2 separate regions of the Homo sapiens genome follow, and region 2 is linked to region 1. A link means that fine-mapping ties the variant in region 1 to the expression of a gene that starts in the linked region. Tissue or cell type: esophagus muscle. Region 1 holds a variant in brackets; the other region holds the start of a gene. All regions are shown on one strand. Distances are from middle to middle.

Region 1 (8,104 bases):
CTGGCTTCAAGCTTCAAACCCCACCTTGGCCTCCCAAAGTGCTGGGATTACAGGCACGAGCCACTGTGCCTGGCCTTCATTTTCTCTTAATGGTAGTGTCTTACCATATAATACATATAGTAATTTTTCTTTTTCTTTTTTTGAGACAGAGTTTCACTCTTTTTGCCCAGCTAAAATCACATTCAGTGGTGCGATCTCGGCTCACCGCAACCTCCGCCTCCCGGGTTCAAGCAATTTTCCTGCCTCAGCCTCCCGAGTAGCTGGAATTACAGGCATGCGCCACCATGCTTGGCTAATTTTGTATTTTTAATAGAGACAGGGTTTCTCCATGTTGGTCAGGCTGGTCTCGAACTCCTGACCTCAGGTGATCTGCCCACCTTGCCTCCCAAAATGCTGGGATTACAGGCGTGGGCCACCGCGCCCAGCCCATATGGTACTTTTTCAAAACCTGGAACTTGACGTTGGTATGATATAATTAACTAGCCTACACACCTTACTCAGATATTTGGGTGAATTGATTTAAAAGCTATACAATATCCAGTGCAGCTTTCCACTAGTTAAGATGAAGAATTTTACTGTTCTTATCCCATTGAATAAAATGTTTTGATTTTTTTTAAAAACCAAAATGTTCTGTTTTTTTCTTAAACTTTAAAAACAACTCAAACATTTTCATTTTTTTACTATCTTTACAAGACTACAATTGAATTAAGGGGGTGGCAGTGGAGATGAAGAAGATGACTTAGAAATAGAAACGAATTAAAAAATGGATTTGAGGCCAGACTCAGTGGCTTATGCCTGTAATCTCAGCACTTTGAAAGGCCGAGGAGGGTGGATCACTTGAGCTGAGTTCGAGACAGGGCTGGCACAGTAAACCCCATCTCTACTTAAAAAAAAAAATCAGCAAGGCTCGGTGGCTCACGCCTGTAATTCCAGCACTTTGGGAGGCCGAGGTGGGCGGATTGCTTGAGACCAGGAGATGGAGACCAGCCTAGCCAACACAGTGAAACCCCGTTTCTACCAAAAAAATACAAAAATGAGCCAGGTGTGGTGTTGTGCGCCTGTAGTCCCAGCTACCTGGGAGGCTAAGGCATGAGAATCACTTGAACCTGGGAGGTAGAGGTTGCAGTGAGCCAAGATTGTGCCACTGCACTCCAGCCTGGGCGACAGAGTGAGACTCTGTTTCAAAAATAAATTAAATAAATAAATAAGCCTAGCGTGGTGGCACACTTCTGTAGTCCCAGCATCTTGGCAAGCTGAGGTGAAAGGATTGCTTGAACCTTGGAGGCAGAGGCTACAGTGGGCTAAGATTGTGCCACTGCACTCCTGCCTGGGTGACAGAGTGAGACTTTGTCCTAAAAAAAAAAAAAAAAAAAGAATTTGGGTATCATAGGAGTAGGAGGAATTAATAACACATGAGTTCTGGTTTCAATAACTGGGTACGTGGTGGAACCATTTGTTGAGATAGAGAAGTTTTGAAGCTGGGTGCAGTGGCTCACGCCTGTAATCCCAGTACTTTGGGAGGCCGAGGTGGGCAGATTACCTGAGGTCAGGAGTTTGAGATCAGCCTGGCCAACATGGTGGAATCCCGTTTGTACCAAAAATACAAAAAATTAGCCGGGCTTGGTGGCACGCACCTGTAATCCCAGCTATTCGGGAGGCAGAGGCAGGAGAATTGCTTGAACCCCGGAGGAGGCAGAAGTTGCAGTGAGCTGAGATTGCGCCACTGCACTCCAGCCTGGGTGACAGAGCAAGACTCTGTCTCAAACAAAACAAAAGAGACAGAGAAGTTTTGGGAAGGGTTGGTTTACAGGGAAAATCCTGGGTTCAGTCTCAGGCTTATTCAGGTGAGATGTCTCTGAGCCATCTAAGTGGCAATTCAGTAGGCTGTTGGATATGGGGTCTAGAGACTACAAGAGAGGATTGAGTTGATGTCACACAACTCCAGAGAGGGCATCACACACAAGTATATTTAAAGTTCCAGGCTGGGGCGGGGTGCAGTGGCTCATGCCTGTAATCCCAACACTTTGGGAGGCCAAGGCGGGCGGATCACCTGAGGTCAGAAGTTCGAGATCAGTCTGACCAACATGGGGAAACCCCGTCTCTACTAAAAATACAAAAAAATTAGCCAGGCGTGGTGGCGGGCACCTGTAATCCCAGCTACTTGGGAAACCGAGGCAAGAGAATCACTTAAACCCGGGAGGTAGAGGGTGCAGTGAGCCGAGATCGTGCCTCTGCACTCCAGCTGGGGCGACAAGAGTGAAACTCCGTCTCAAAATAATAATAATAATAATAATAATAATAATAATAATAATAATAATTTAAAAATAAAGTTCCCGGCTGGGCATGGTGGTTCACGCCTGTAATTCCAGCACTTTGGGAGGCTGAGGTGGGCGGATCACTTGAGGTCAGGAGTTTGAGACCAGCCTGGCCAATATGGCGAAACCCTGTCTCCACTAAAAATATAAAAATTAGCCAGGCGTGGTGGCGCATGCCTGTAGTCCCAGCTACTTGGGAGGCTGAGGCATGAGAATCGCTTGAACCAGGCAGGCGGAAGTTGCAGTGAGCCAAGATCATGCCACTGCACTCCAGCCTGGACAACAGAGCAAAAACTCCATCTCAAAAAAAAAAAAAAAAGTTCCCTCTCAACCCCTGTTTATTTATCCCATAAATATTTATTAAATGATTCTAAGTCTTAGAGCTGCAGAGGTGAAGAAGAGAGACTAGGTCAGCCCCTGTCCTCATGAATCTTACATCCAGTGGAGGTCATTTCGGTGTCAGAGAAAGGGTAGGGTGGTGGCTTTTTTCAGGCAGGCTAAAGGAGGGAGGTCACAATGTGTACTTTGTGATGAGATCTATGATATAACTGGGATGACAGCAAGGCCCCCACTGAGGTATTCCTTCCCCTCTCAGGACTAGCCACATGCTGTCTCTCTGCCCTGGCCTCTTCCACCCCATGCCCAGTCAGAGACCGTTTTGAGGGTGAGCAAATGGATAGTGAGGCAGGAGAGGAGGGGTTGGAAGGAGGTGGAAGGTGGTGGGATGGGGAGTTGTGGAGGCCGACAGGACAGAGGGAAGCTGGTGCTGTCTGTGGCCTCAGCCCCTCATCCTTACAGGTAGAGAAGCCAGTCTACGGCCCACCACGGGAGCCACCGCCTGGGCCAGACATGAAGCGCTGGCAGATTTTTGTCCTGTGGGTCTTTTGGGTGCTCATCCTCTGGCTGATGACCCCCTATCTGGATCTGACACCTGAATCAGCACCCCAGGAAAAACGAATGTACTTGGTACCACAGCATTGCGACTGCCCTTGGTTCAGTTCCGGGAAGTGTGGCTGCCCTTCTGAGACCCTCAACTGCTCCTCCTGCCACCACACAGCCGACGAATGGAACTGGCTTGATGCGTGCTCCAGGAAGACTATGGGGTACCTGATGAGGACAAGAGAGTCTATGACCTCTGACACTGTGCTCTGGTGGTTGGTCAGTGGTCAACACTGGGCCCGGCCATATCCCCCATGCTTTCCGGGCCTCACCCATCTCCCACTTTCCGCCCAAATCCCTGCCCTTGGCCCTGTCTTCACAGCCTCTGGATGGAGATCTCACCCACCCAGCTCTGTTTTCTCTCCCCTGGGCCCAGCCCCCAATCTCCCTCTTGCTGTTTCCAGGGCATGAACTCAGGGAGCGAGCTTGGGAAATTGTGGAGGAAGCTGTTTAAAGGGATTCCCAGGCTCTCGGTGAGCCATTTTGATTTCTATTGTGGGACTTGTGTGCTGTTGGGGCGCCCACAGATCCCGCAGGGCTCCAGCCTTGGCAACGACATCGACCAATACCCCGTGGTTTTCAGGTGGGTGCTGGGGAGAGGGCGGGAGCAGGAAGGCCAGGCCTGCCCCACAGTTCCATCAGTTTCTGCTCCCCTTCCCAAGATGAAGCAGGCCCCAAGTCCAGGGCTTTGAGATGGACGTGGGGAACCAAACCACACACAATGCTTCATCTATCCCAGGAATGCCAGCGACCAGGGCTCCTGGATGCAGCTGGAGATGCTACTGCGGAAGCTCTCTGACCTGGTGTGGACTTCAGATGCTCTAAGTGATAAGGTGATGGAGGTGTCCCCAGACATTCTCTGTGTGGGGGTGAGGGGAGGTCACTGCAGGGAGTAACAGCAGGGGCTCTGGGAAGACCTTCTATTGGCTTACTGGGGACACTTGCAGGACTTTCCCAGGTCTTGTGGCCCAAACTCCCCCACCTCCAATTCTTTCTCAGATTTTGGAAGATGGTCTGGTTCCCTAGTGGAGTGGAAGATAGCAAAGACACGGTGAGGGG[GA/A]ATAGGAAAAGGGGTAGGATGTGGCTGTGGGTTGCTGTGGGAAGGGCCCCAGGTCAGTTCCCTCCCCCTTCCTCCCCAGGTGCAACCAGGACAACTGGCTGTCTTACCAGGGTCAGGGTCATCCCTGGGGCCCAAGGCTTTGTTCTGTGTCTTGCACAACTGTGCCCCGGCAGGAAAGATTCTTGTATCTTCTTCTCTTAAAATTCCTGCTCCTCAATGCCTTCAGCATGGAGTCTAAAGTTTTCTGCCTGGCTTTCAAGACTCTACATGTAGGCCAAGCGTGGTGGCTCATGCCTGTATCCCAACACTTTGGGAGGCTGAGGCGGGTGGATCATGAGGTCAGGAGTTCGAGACCAGCCTGGCCAATATGGTCAAACTCCATCTCTACTAAAAATACAAAAAATAGCCAGGCATGGTGGTAGCCTCATCTCTACTAAAAATGCAAAAAATAGCCAGGCATGCCTGTAGTCCCAGCTACTCGGGAGGCTGAGGTAGAAGAATCGCTTGAACCCGGGAGGCAGAGGTTGCAGTTAGCCGAGATTGCGCCACTGCACTCCAGCCTGGTGACAGAGCGAGACTCCATCTCAGAAAAAAAAAAGACTATACATGTTCTGACTCCTCCCCTTGCCTCCTGTCTCCCAGGCTCCCATAATGGGCTCTTAGAATTCCCCAGACACATGAGCTGCCTCATGCCTTCTCTCGCACCATTCCGTTTGCCTGGAATGCCCTTCTCTTACGTCCTGGGGGTTCCCCTCTCTTCCTCCAATACCATGAGGAAAAGTGAGTTGACATTCTCTTTTTTGGGATCCTCAGTGACTCTAGGAGAGTGTCCAGAGTCTGTTTCCTGGAGGTGAGCTCCAGTCTCCTCCCAGCTCCCAGGGACAACCTGTCATCCTAGATGCTGAGTGAAGGGAGGCAGGGGTGAGGACAGGAGTCTGCCTGCTGACGCACATGTCCCTCTCTTATCCACTAGGTCACCCTCTTTGGATTTGGATCAGAATAGCAAGGAAAGTGTTTCTATCACTGGAAGGAGGATAATCAGACCAAGGGCTCCAAGGAAATACTGCCCACGTCTAGTGCAGGAGCAGAAATCGAAGTCATCCATCAGCTAGCGTGTGGACAAGCTCACTATTCACACAAGCTCAGCCTAGCTGAGTCCATACAAATCCTATTTCTGGGTGGGTAAAGGGCAGGAGGAAATTGTAAGATCAGTCTGGTACTGAATAAAATCCTGGCCTGATTGTCTTACCTGTAACCACAGTGTCTGGGAGGGATGGGCCAGAGGTGCCTTCCAGATCTCAGGGGCAATATTTGAGTTGATTTCTTTGCCTAGTGCCCTGGATCATGTAGGAGGTATAAGTTTAGATTCAATTTCATGCCAAGTGCAAACCCAGACTTTGAGTTGTTGGGGGAGGCTCTTTACCCACTTCGATAAAAGAAGTAAACCTCCTTGTTTCACCCATGCCGGAGGGTGAGGGTTGTTTTTTGTTTTTTGTTTTTTTGCCCAGCTTTTCACAGAAGGTTTAGCATTTTGAGGTTCCCAGTTTTTTTAGGTGCCTCAGTTCCAATTCGCTTTTTTTTTTTTTTTTTTTTTTGAGACAAGAGTTTGCTGTGTTGCCCAGGCTGGAATGGAGTGGCACAATCATGGCTTATTGCAGCCTCGACCTCCTGGGCTCAAGTGATCCTCCCACCTAAGCCCCCTGAGTAGCTGGGACTATAAATGCATGTCACCACACCCAGTTAATTTTAATTTTTGTTTTTGTAGAAAGGGGGTCTTGCCATGTTGGCCAGGATGGCCTTGAACTCCTAGGCTCAAGCAATCCTACTGCCTTGGCCTCCCAAAGTGCTGGGATTACAGGTGTGAGTCACTGTGCCTAGCACTTACCGTGTCACTTCTGCAGCATTCCATTGGTCAGATCAAGTCATAAAGTGATCCAAGATCCAAGAAGTGGGGAAATGAACTGCTCTTCCTAATGGAAAGAGCTGAAGAGAATCTGCCATAATGAGACTACCACAGTGTCAAGGGCCCAGTTGTGTTGGCAGCAGTGGTGGCATTCCAGGTGGGCCATTCCTGGGGTAGTCTTTGGCCATGTTTTGCATCTCATGATAGACTGAGCCTGGTTCTCTAGCTTTTGCATCATCCTGTAAACTACTAAATATTTAGCCGGCGAATTGTTTTTCTCTGAAGTTTACCAGTCTGTTGACCAAGACCAAGAATCCAACTGCTACAGTTAACAAAGAATAAAAAATCAGACTTTTGGCTGGGCACAGTGGCTCAGACCCAGCATGTTGTGAGGCTGAGGCAGGAGGACTGCTTGTGCCTGGAAAATTTCTGCATAATTCACCCCTTAATTTGCATGTAGTTAAAAGTGGGTATAAATAGGATTGCAGAGCTGCTGCTGAGCTGCTAACTCTGGGCACACTGCCTATGGGGTAGCCCTGTCCACAAGAAGCAGTGTACCTCTGCTGCTGCTGTGCAATGCTGCTTCAATACAGTTTGCTAACACCACTGGATCGCATCAGGGCAAAGCCAAGAACCCTCTCAGGCTAAGCCCCAATTTTGGGGATTGCCTGCCCTGCATCAGAGGCATCACTCCAGTCTCTACCTCCAACTTCACATGGCATACTCCCCTGTGTCTTCTGTTTCCAAATTTCCCTCATCTTTTTTTTTGAGATGGAGTCTTGCTCTTGTCACCCAGGCTGGAGTGCAGTGGCATGATCTCAGCTCACTGCAACCTCTGCCTCCCAGGTTCAAGCAATTCTCCTGCCTCAGCCTCTCGAGTAGCTGGGATTACAGGTGCCCGCCACTACGCCTGGCTAATTTTTTGTATTTTAGTAGAGACTGGGTTTCGCCATGTTGGCCAGGCTGGTCTCAAACTCCTGGCCTCAAGTGACCTGCCTGCCTTGGCCTCCCAAAATGCTGGGATTACAGGCATGGGTCATCACGCCCGGCCAATTTCCCTCATCTTATAAACACACTAGTCATTGGATTAGGGCCCATTCTCATCCAGCATGATCTCATTTTAATTTCATTGTATCTGCAAAGGCCCTACTTCCAAATAAGGTCACATTTATAAGTATCAGGGGTGAGAACATAAAGATTTTTTTTTTTTAAAGTAACACAATTCTACCTCCTGCAAGCAGAATAATGGCGTTTCTAGACATGCAAACTTAGAATGTTTTATCTCCTACACACCCTTTCTTAGAAAGTTACCACGAACAAAAGGCCGGGCACAGTGGATCATGCCTATAATCCCAGCACTTTGGGAGGCCAAGGTGGGTGGATCACCTGAGGTCAGGAGTTCGAGACCAGCCTGACTGATATGATGAAACCCCGTCTCTACTAAAAATACAAAAATTAGCCAGGCATGGTGGTGCACGCCTGTAATCCCAGCTACTCAGGAGGCTGAGACAGGAGAATTGCTTGAACCCGGGAGGCAGAGGTTGCAGTGAGCCGAGATCATGCCATTGCACTCCAGCCTGGGCAACAAGAGCGAAATTCTGTCTCAAAAAAAAAAAAAAAATTATCATGAACAAAAAAAGGTAGTCTTAGTTCATTTACAAACTCTATAGGAAATATTTATCTAGTTACAATAATGTAAACACTAATAGTAGATTGTTGACTTTTAGAATTAAATTAGCCTGTATTTCTGTACCATCCAATATGATGGATGAGCACTTGAAATGCGGCAAATGCAAGTGAGGAAGGAATTTTTAAATTTATTTTAATTAATCTAAATTTCAAAACAATTCAGTTCTTAGAAAACTTTTCACTATGCTTATTGTAACT
Region 2 (8,104 bases), 74 kb after region 1:
ACTATGCAATTTTTCTGTAACCCTAAAATTGTTGTAAAAAATAGTTTTAAAAAATGATTTAAAGTTTTTTAAAACCAAAACAATCCTCATAAAACTAAAATTTATTAAAACAAGAATAAAAGAGAAGAGACAGAGAAAAATTATCTCAGGAATCTTTCTGAAATTCAGATTTCATTCTGAGCTTCCTCAAGACACAGTTCAGCATCCTTTTACAAACACACTGCCAGATCAGATCTGCTAGGAATAAACTAGCAGAGCCCCCAAAGGGAAAGTAAATTTCAATGTGCCTGAGAAAGGGAAAAGAGCAGTAGCTGGCAAACTAACAAATTGGATTACATCTAAATAAGATAATGAGTGTCAGTGTACTTCTAAGCTGTAAACCACTGAGCCAATGTTATCATTACTGCAGGAAAAAGGGAAAGATTCATTTCTTTTGTACATTAATTTATCCCATAAACACTCATGAATTTCAACTCAGTATCAGGAGTCTGCCACAGTGGTACAGAAATGAACAAGACCTACCTTCCTACTTTTGCTAAGGATCAGACAGGGAAGACAGCACCCTTACTAAAGACCAACAGCCACCTGTGAACCTGGAGTGGAAAGTGACAGAAGAGTGAGATAAATTATGTATTTGATCCTCTCTCATCCAAAATACTACAAAAGGAGTATTTAAATAAAGTTTAAAAGAGAAGCAACACTACCACCTAAACTTGGAATAGAGGCATAAATGCTACAAGGACTAAGATGCAGAATGGTATTAAATAGAATTTGTCACTTAAAGCAAAAACAGAAAAATACTTGAGGACACAAACATTTTATTTACTGAGAAAGAAACTACAGTATAGACATTTGTGTACAGACATAATTTGTTTCTTACTCCTGAAAAAAACAAATTAGCATGCAGCTCCTTATTTAAATCTCATGTGGGGCCTCTCTGTTGCTCTCTTCCAACCTCTGGCCTCTCCCACTCAGTCTCCTTTGCTGCCTTTTCTCATCTCCCCAGTATCTAAAGTTTGGAAACCTCAAGGCTTCAGACCTCTTCTCCATCTCCATTAATTTCCAAGGTAATCTCATCCAGTGTTTTGTTTTGTTTTTGAGACAGGATCTGGCTCTGTTACCCAGGCTGTAGTGCACTGGCATGATCTCAGCTCACTGCAACCTCTGCCTCCCCGGTTCAGGCAATTCTCATGTCTCAGCCTCCTGAGTAGCTGGGATTACAAGCATGTGCCACCACGACCAGCTAATTTTTTTGTATTTTTAGTAGAGACAGAGTTTCACCAAGGTGGGAGGATCTCTTGAGGCCAGGAGTTCAAGACCAGCCTGGGCAACACAGGGAGATTCCCATCTCTATTAAAAAAAAAAAAATTGCTGGCTGTGTGGCATTCACCTGTAGTCCCAGCTACTTGGGAAGTTAAGGTGGGAGGGCTGCTTGAGCCAAGGAGTTCGAGGCTGCAGTGAGCTGTGATCACGCCACTGCACTCCAGCCTGGGACAAGATGCTCAAATAAATAAATAAATAAAATACTATCACCTCTCCACATAACACTAGTACTTTTATTTACCTTACCATGCTTTTTCTGTCCCTATCTAATTATTATGTAATATACTTACCAAAATGCAAATTCCACAAGTGCAAAAGCATTGTTTTATCGAATGCTGTATTCCCAGCTCCTACCTAAAACACAGCCTGGTTTATAACAAGTGCCCATTATTACTGACTATTATAGGACATTAGGTAACATGATCCATATTATCACCAATGGTCTTGCAAAATGCTAACAGCTCTATTACCTATATAAAAAGCAAAAAAACAGGCTGGGTGTGGTGGCTCACAACTGTAATCCCAGCACTTTGGGAGGCTGAGTTGGGCAGATCATTTGAGGCCAGGAGTTCGAGACCAGCTTGGCCAACATGGCAAAACCCCATCTCTCCTAGAAATACAAAAATTAGCCAGGCACGGTGGCGGGCGCCTGTAATCCCAGCTACTCAGGAGGCTGAGGCGGGAGAATCGCCTGAACCTGGGAGACAGGATGTTCCAGTGAACCCAGATCGCACCACTGCACTCCAGCCTGGGTGACTGAGACCAGGTCTCAAAAAAAAAAAAAAAAGTGGGGGGAGGCATATAACTTATAGCTTGGTCAGTGGCAGAGCAATGACTGAACCCCAATCTGATTCCAAATTCTACACTCTCTCCATTACATTAGCTGTTAAAGCATGAACATTACATTAGTTAAAGCATGGACTACGAACTCACAGCTCTGTGAGGGGCACTTCTTAAATAGTGAGCGATAATGACACCTATGTCTGCAGCTTTCTGATCGAAAAGGAGCAAAGAAAGATAGAAGAACTAAAGGAACAGAGGGCGTACCAGTAGCCTTGGTTTTGTTGTGACCTCTATAAATCTGGGACCAGTTCTCCTTTCTAAGCCTTCGCGGTAAAATACTGATCACAAGCCTAGCCTCCAATAACTCCCAGGGCCAAAGTAAAGATCAATTCAACAGACGTTGATTAAACCCAAAGGCAATCTAGTCAAGTCATCAAATGCCCTGGGGACAGTTTCCCAGCTCCATCCACTTATTAGTTGTGGGACTCCTGGCAAATTACTTTTTCTATGAATACCTCAGTTTCTTCATGGGTAAAACGTGAAGCTATAGAAAGAACTCACCCCATAGGATTGTTGGGAAGATTAAATAGGCCTTTGGCTGAGCGCGGTGGCTCACGCCTGTAATCCCAGCACTTTGGGAGGCCGAAGCGGGCGGATCACCTGAGGTCGGGAGTTCGAGATCAGCCTGACCAACATGGAGAAACCCCGTCTCTACTAAAAACATAAAATTAGCCGGGTGTGGTGGCGCATGCCTGCAATCCCAGCTACTTGGGAGGCTGAGGCAGGAGAATCGCTTGAACCCGGGAGGCGGAGGTTGAGGTGAGCCGAGATCGCGCCATTGCACTCCAGCCTGGGCAACAAGCGCGAAACTCCGTCTCTAAATAAATAAATAAATGGGCCCTTATGTGTAATGCATTCAGTAGCACCTGACAATTTGTGATCATTCCGTACAGTAAGCCATGACTATTATCATCACGTGCTAGGCCCTGGGATCTAGAGATGAAAAAGGCAAGGCATAACATCTAACGAACGAGCTTACGGTGTCAACGAGGGGCCGGGAAAGTAACTCGGTGCACAGCGAGTGCAAAAACCGAGAAGCGAATGCAGCTGCGCCTGGAGAAGGCGGCTGAGAAGCGATACTTCAGCAGGGTCCTGAAGAATGGGAGCTCCAGAGTCGGGTGGCGGGTGGGACTGGGCTTTCGGATAGATTACGTGCAAATCCGCCAGGACACAGGGAGCGAGGGGCGGGGGGGCGGCAGAGCGCGGCGCCTCACCCTCCCAGCCTGGGATTGCGGCTACTGGACACGAGGGTCGGGAAGCTCTCCTTCGGCGCCGACTGGAGCTTAGCGTGCTGGCGGCAGCAAGAAGCTGAGGCAAGCGGGCCCCGGGCCCTAACGACGCGTCCCAGCCCCTCTCTGGGCCTCGGGTTCCTCCCGGGTAACAAGAGGCCGCTGCCCGAACGGGATTCCCTCAGGCGCCCTAGACGGGCGGGTCTCCGGGCCTCGGACGGTTAACCCGAGCACCTCCCACCTGCCCCTGAGGCCCCACCTCACCACGCTCGGCTCCCGCAGACGCCCGGCTAGTTGCTCCGCGATTGAGCTGCGGCAGCCGCTGCTAAGGCCCTGCGGGGGACGGGGGCGGAGCCCACCCCGAGGCAGAGGGCCAGGCCCCGCCCCCCCAAACTCCCGCCCTTTGGGAGGGGCCCGCCCCTCCAAGTCCTGCACCTATAGGCAGACTGAGCCGGCGCAGGGCCTCCCGCCATGTTGGGTATTGGCAGCCGACTTACTAGAGAGGCCCTGAAGGAAAGGGGGTATTATTTTAAGAATTATAAGATCCCTAGCCAGAAATGGGGACGGTCAGGGTCTCTGGATTCGCGAAAGGGACATTTCGGAAGCAGAAAAGAAAAATTGCCCTCAATCATTTCGCTTTTGGCTTCAGTGTTACATACAGCGCATGTGCAAGGTCACCTGGTTCTAGGTGCGCCTGCGCACAGCTCCACCTACAAACCAGACTACAATTACAACTGCCGAGAAACAAAGGGGCTCGCTGCCACTGGTTAGCGATAATACTGGCAGCGCGACCGGTTTCTGAGGGTTGTTCACCTTGCTGCTCAGACGCTCCGAGAAGCTTCAGGCAGCATAACACTTACAGGCGAGTTACTTACTCAACACTCGGTTTTGTCTGCATGTCTCTGCACAGAGTGTTACCTTTACCTGACTTAATCCGTCCCGGAGCTGCAGTTCTGCTTAAGCCTGACTTCTAGAGAACTTTTTCTTCCCAATAGGACCCATGCGTTATTCCTGTAGCATTTTGTGTATAAATTTTTTTTTTTTTTTTTGAAATGGAGTCTTGCTCTGTCGCCAGGCTGGAGTGCATTGGCACGATCTCGGCTCACTGCAACCTCTGCCTCCCAGGTTCAAGTAATTCTCCTGCCTCAGCCTCCCGAGTAGCTGGGACTACAGGCGCCCGCCACCACGCCCGGCTAATTTTTGTATTTTTAGTAGAGACAGGATTTCACCATGTTGGCCAGGATGGTCTCGATCTCTCTTGACCTCGTGATCCTCCCGCCTCGGCCTCCCAAAGGGCTGGGATTACAGGCGTGAGCCACCGCGCCCGGCCTTGTGTATAAATTGTTAATGCACTTTCTTAGAGTTGTAAACTCCATTTACCTGCCTCACTCTTGCACTCAGTGGTTCTCAATTTTTAGTAGGAATTAAAAACAAAACTGGTAAATGCAGACTCTTGGTTTCCACCCCCAGAGAATCCCTAAACCGGGGGTGGAGTCCAGGAATCTGCATTTTAGAAAGTACCCAGGGTGATTCTGATAATTGGGAACACGTTTTAGGAAGCGCTGCATGAGATTGTGAGCTTGAGCGTAGAGACTGTAATTTGGTCATCTGACTATAGCGCTCAGCACAAGGCCTGGTACAAAATAGGTGCTCAATAAGTGCTGAGTGAATGGGTGAATGAGTGGATAGCTCGAGTGAAACAGCAAGGCTTCAGGTTAATCCACAGCCAAAGGTAACCTGAGAAAGGAACGCTTAAAAGCTATATTTTATCTTTCTCCTGTAAGAACACAAAAAAGATCTTAATAGCTAATTTGAGAAATAGAGAAAGTGGAGAGTAAAAGGGGAAGGAAGGACACGGATTCTGAAAGGCAAACTATCTAGAGAGGGGAAAAGGAACATCTCCAGGCACTAGACAGAGAAAACGATGCAAAGAAGCAGTGGTGTGGGATTCCATCCTAGGGAAATAATCCCACAACAGGCATTGTGCTTGAATGTTCACTGCAACAATATTTGAAATACAAATGAAACAATCTAAATATTATGCACATCAAGCTCTTTTCTGCCTCAGGGCGTTTGCATACACTATGCCAGCTACCTAGACCACTTTTCCCCCAGCTCTTGGCCTAGCTGGTACCTTCCTGTCCTTCAGGTCCCAGCTTAAATGATACTTCCTCAACTAGGTCTTCCCTGACCATGCTATCTAAAGTAATACCCTATACTTTCTAGGATAGTCTTCTGTTTCTTTTCTTTTTGAGACGGGGTCTTGCTTTGTCGCCCAGGCTGGAGTGCAGCGGCGCAATCTCGGCTCACTGCAAGCTCCACCATCCGGGTTCACGCCATTCTTCTGCCTCAGCCTCCCCAATAGCTGGAACCACAGGTGCCCGCCACCACGCCCGGCTAATTTTTTTGTATTTTTAGTAGAGACGGGGTTTCACCGTGTTAGCCAGGATGGTCTTGATCTCCTGACCTCGTGATCCGCCCGCCTCAGCCTCCCAAAATGCTGGCATTACAGGCATGCGCCACCGCACCCGGCCGTCTTCTGTTTCTTTCATAGCACTTTCCATTTATTATTTTGTTTTCCTATTAACATTCCCTCCAAAATTTAAGCTTTGTGTGGATAGGAGACTTATTCCTGGGATTTAGCACAGTCTTACACACATGGTAGGTATCAAGTAAGTGTCCATTGAATGAATGAATCAAGTCAGCCCTAGTGTTACAAAGTTTAATGACATAACATCCATTAGCAAACTAGACAATATTTTTTAAGACTATGAGGAGTCGGCCGGGTGCGGTGGCTCACGCCTGTAATCCCAGCACTTTGGGAGGCTGAGGTGGGCAGATCACCTGAGGTTGGGAGTTCAATACCATCCTGACCAACAGGGAGAAACCCCATCTCTACTAAAAATATAAAATTAGCTAGGCGTGGTGGCGCATGCCTGTAATCCCAGCTACTCGGGAGGCTGAGGCAGGAGAATCACTTGAACCCGGGAGGCGGAGGTTGCGGTGAGCCGAGATTGCACCATTGTGCTCTAGCCTGGGCAACAAGAGCGAAAGTTCATCTCAAAGAAAAAGACTATGAGGAGTAAACAGGTTTCAGACTACCAAGATATACCAAACCAAATAGTAATCTTTGATGTTTGTAAAGGGGGATTCATTCCCTTATTTATTCATTTACCCAGTGGACATTTATTGAGCATTGATTATGTTCTAGTATTGAATAATAATACAATGTAGTAAGGACAAGTTGGAAATTGTATTAAAACATAATAATGTAGTACAACTGGATATTATCTGAGCCAAAGCCCAAAGTGGAATTAGCTGGTGTGTGAAACAGGGATGGGCAGGGGTGGGTGGGAATGGTTTTGAGATGAGACTTCCACCTCAGATCATCAGGCATTAGATTCTCATGAGTGTGTAACCTAGATCCCTTGCATGCACAGGTCTCAATAAGATTTGCCTCCTATGAGAATCTAATGCTGCTGCTGAACTGACAGGAGGTGGAGCTCAGGTGGTAATGCTCGCTTATCTGCTCAACTCCTACTGTGCTGCCAGGGTCCTAACAGGTCACAGACTGATAGTAGTCCATGGCCTGGGGGATTAGAAACCCCTGCCCTAGTGGTTCTGTAGGCATAAGAGTACACCACATCAGTCTTACACAACCTGCAGATGGCTGGGTGCAGTGGCTCACGCCTGTAACCCCAGCACTTTAGAAGGCCAAGACAGGTGGATCACTTGGGCCCAGGAGTTGGAGACCAGCCTGGGCAACATAGTTAGACCTTGTCTCTACAAAAAAATAAAAAAATGAGGTGAGAGGATTGCTTGAGCCCAGGAGGTCGAGGCTGCAATGAGCCGTGATGGCCCTACTGCACTCTAGCCTGGGTGACAGGAGTAAGACCCTGTCTCGAAAAAAAAAAAAAAAGGAAAAAAAAACAGAAAAAAAACGCATTCTGCAAACTGCATGGAGCATTTGAGACGTACAAACAGGTGTTCCTACCTATCACCTGGCTTGGGGCCCAAGAGTCCTATAAAGACTTAAACCAGACAATTCAAGTCTGATCATGTTCAGACCTGTCTGATGAACCAGACTGGGGAGTTCTCAAAGGAGGCTGGATTGGAGGGAAAGGCAATGGATGAGTTGAAAGAAAATCAACCCTGGTCCCTGCCAGGTGAGGGGAACGGTTTCTTCCTTTATATCCTAAATTCCATCTCTAGAAATATGCCTTGTACTCAAACCCTCTCTGAGGGCTATAATATGGATCTTTCCTACACCCAGCCTTGCTCATTATTTATACATATTCCTCCTAGCCCATGCCAAGAGGCCGTCTGGACTAACTGAATTAAAAAATATATATATATATGTATGTGAAATTTCAAAATGAGGTGCTAAATCACTACATATATATTTGTGTATATATATATATATATATATATATATATTTTTTTTTTTTTTTTTTTTTTTCTGTTAGTCTAAAATCTGTTTGAAAGTTCCTAAATCCCTTATCCCAATATAAAGGGGTCTGCAGGTGGAGGATAGATAATTTGTGTGGAGATATTTCTGGCTATGAGTCCCCATTCCTCCTTGGGGAAGATTAAGAGGACATTACTTTTAACCGCTCAAACCAAGTGACTAGGAGAGGGGGCTTCCATGAGAATCTGAGATGCAGAATCCATACCATTGCACTTAGGGAGTATCGTGACCAGGATATGCT

Which allele goes with the higher level. Alleles are on the strand shown, and positions count from the first base shown. SD is a standard deviation of normalised expression in the study named.
For the expression in esophagus muscle of the gene that starts at base 3,299 in region 2, allele A in region 1 goes with a higher level than allele GA (moderate effect, 0.63 SD a copy in GTEx).

Evidence for each region. PIP is the estimated chance that this variant, and not a neighbour inherited with it, causes the effect.
Region 2: it holds the start of CEP250, and the variant in region 1 is fine-mapped to the expression of CEP250 in esophagus muscle (GTEx, PIP 0.98).

The regions. Positions count from the first base shown.
Region 1 is chr20:35,524,434-35,532,537 of GRCh38, reverse strand. It overlaps C20orf173 (chromosome 20 open reading frame 173), which reads left to right and starts at 2,886. Exons shown (of 6, transcript NM_001145350.2): 1 at 2,886-2,979; 2 at 3,114-3,473; 3 at 3,659-3,837; 4 at 3,994-4,087; 5 at 4,254-4,305; 6 at 5,288-5,559. The coding sequence starts at 3,165. The coding sequence ends at 4,280. The variant GA/A (reference allele first, on the strand shown) is at 4,314.
Region 2 is chr20:35,450,793-35,458,896 of GRCh38, reverse strand. It overlaps CEP250 (centrosomal protein 250), which reads right to left and starts at 3,299. Exons shown (of 35, transcript NM_007186.6): 1 at 3,146-3,299; 2 at 523-593. MIR1289-1 (microRNA 1289-1) reads left to right here and starts at 4,800; the gene lies at 4,800-4,943. It also overlaps a transcript of GDF5 not described here. RefSeq lists a silencer at 3,505-3,884 and enhancers at 3,905-4,054, 4,315-4,364.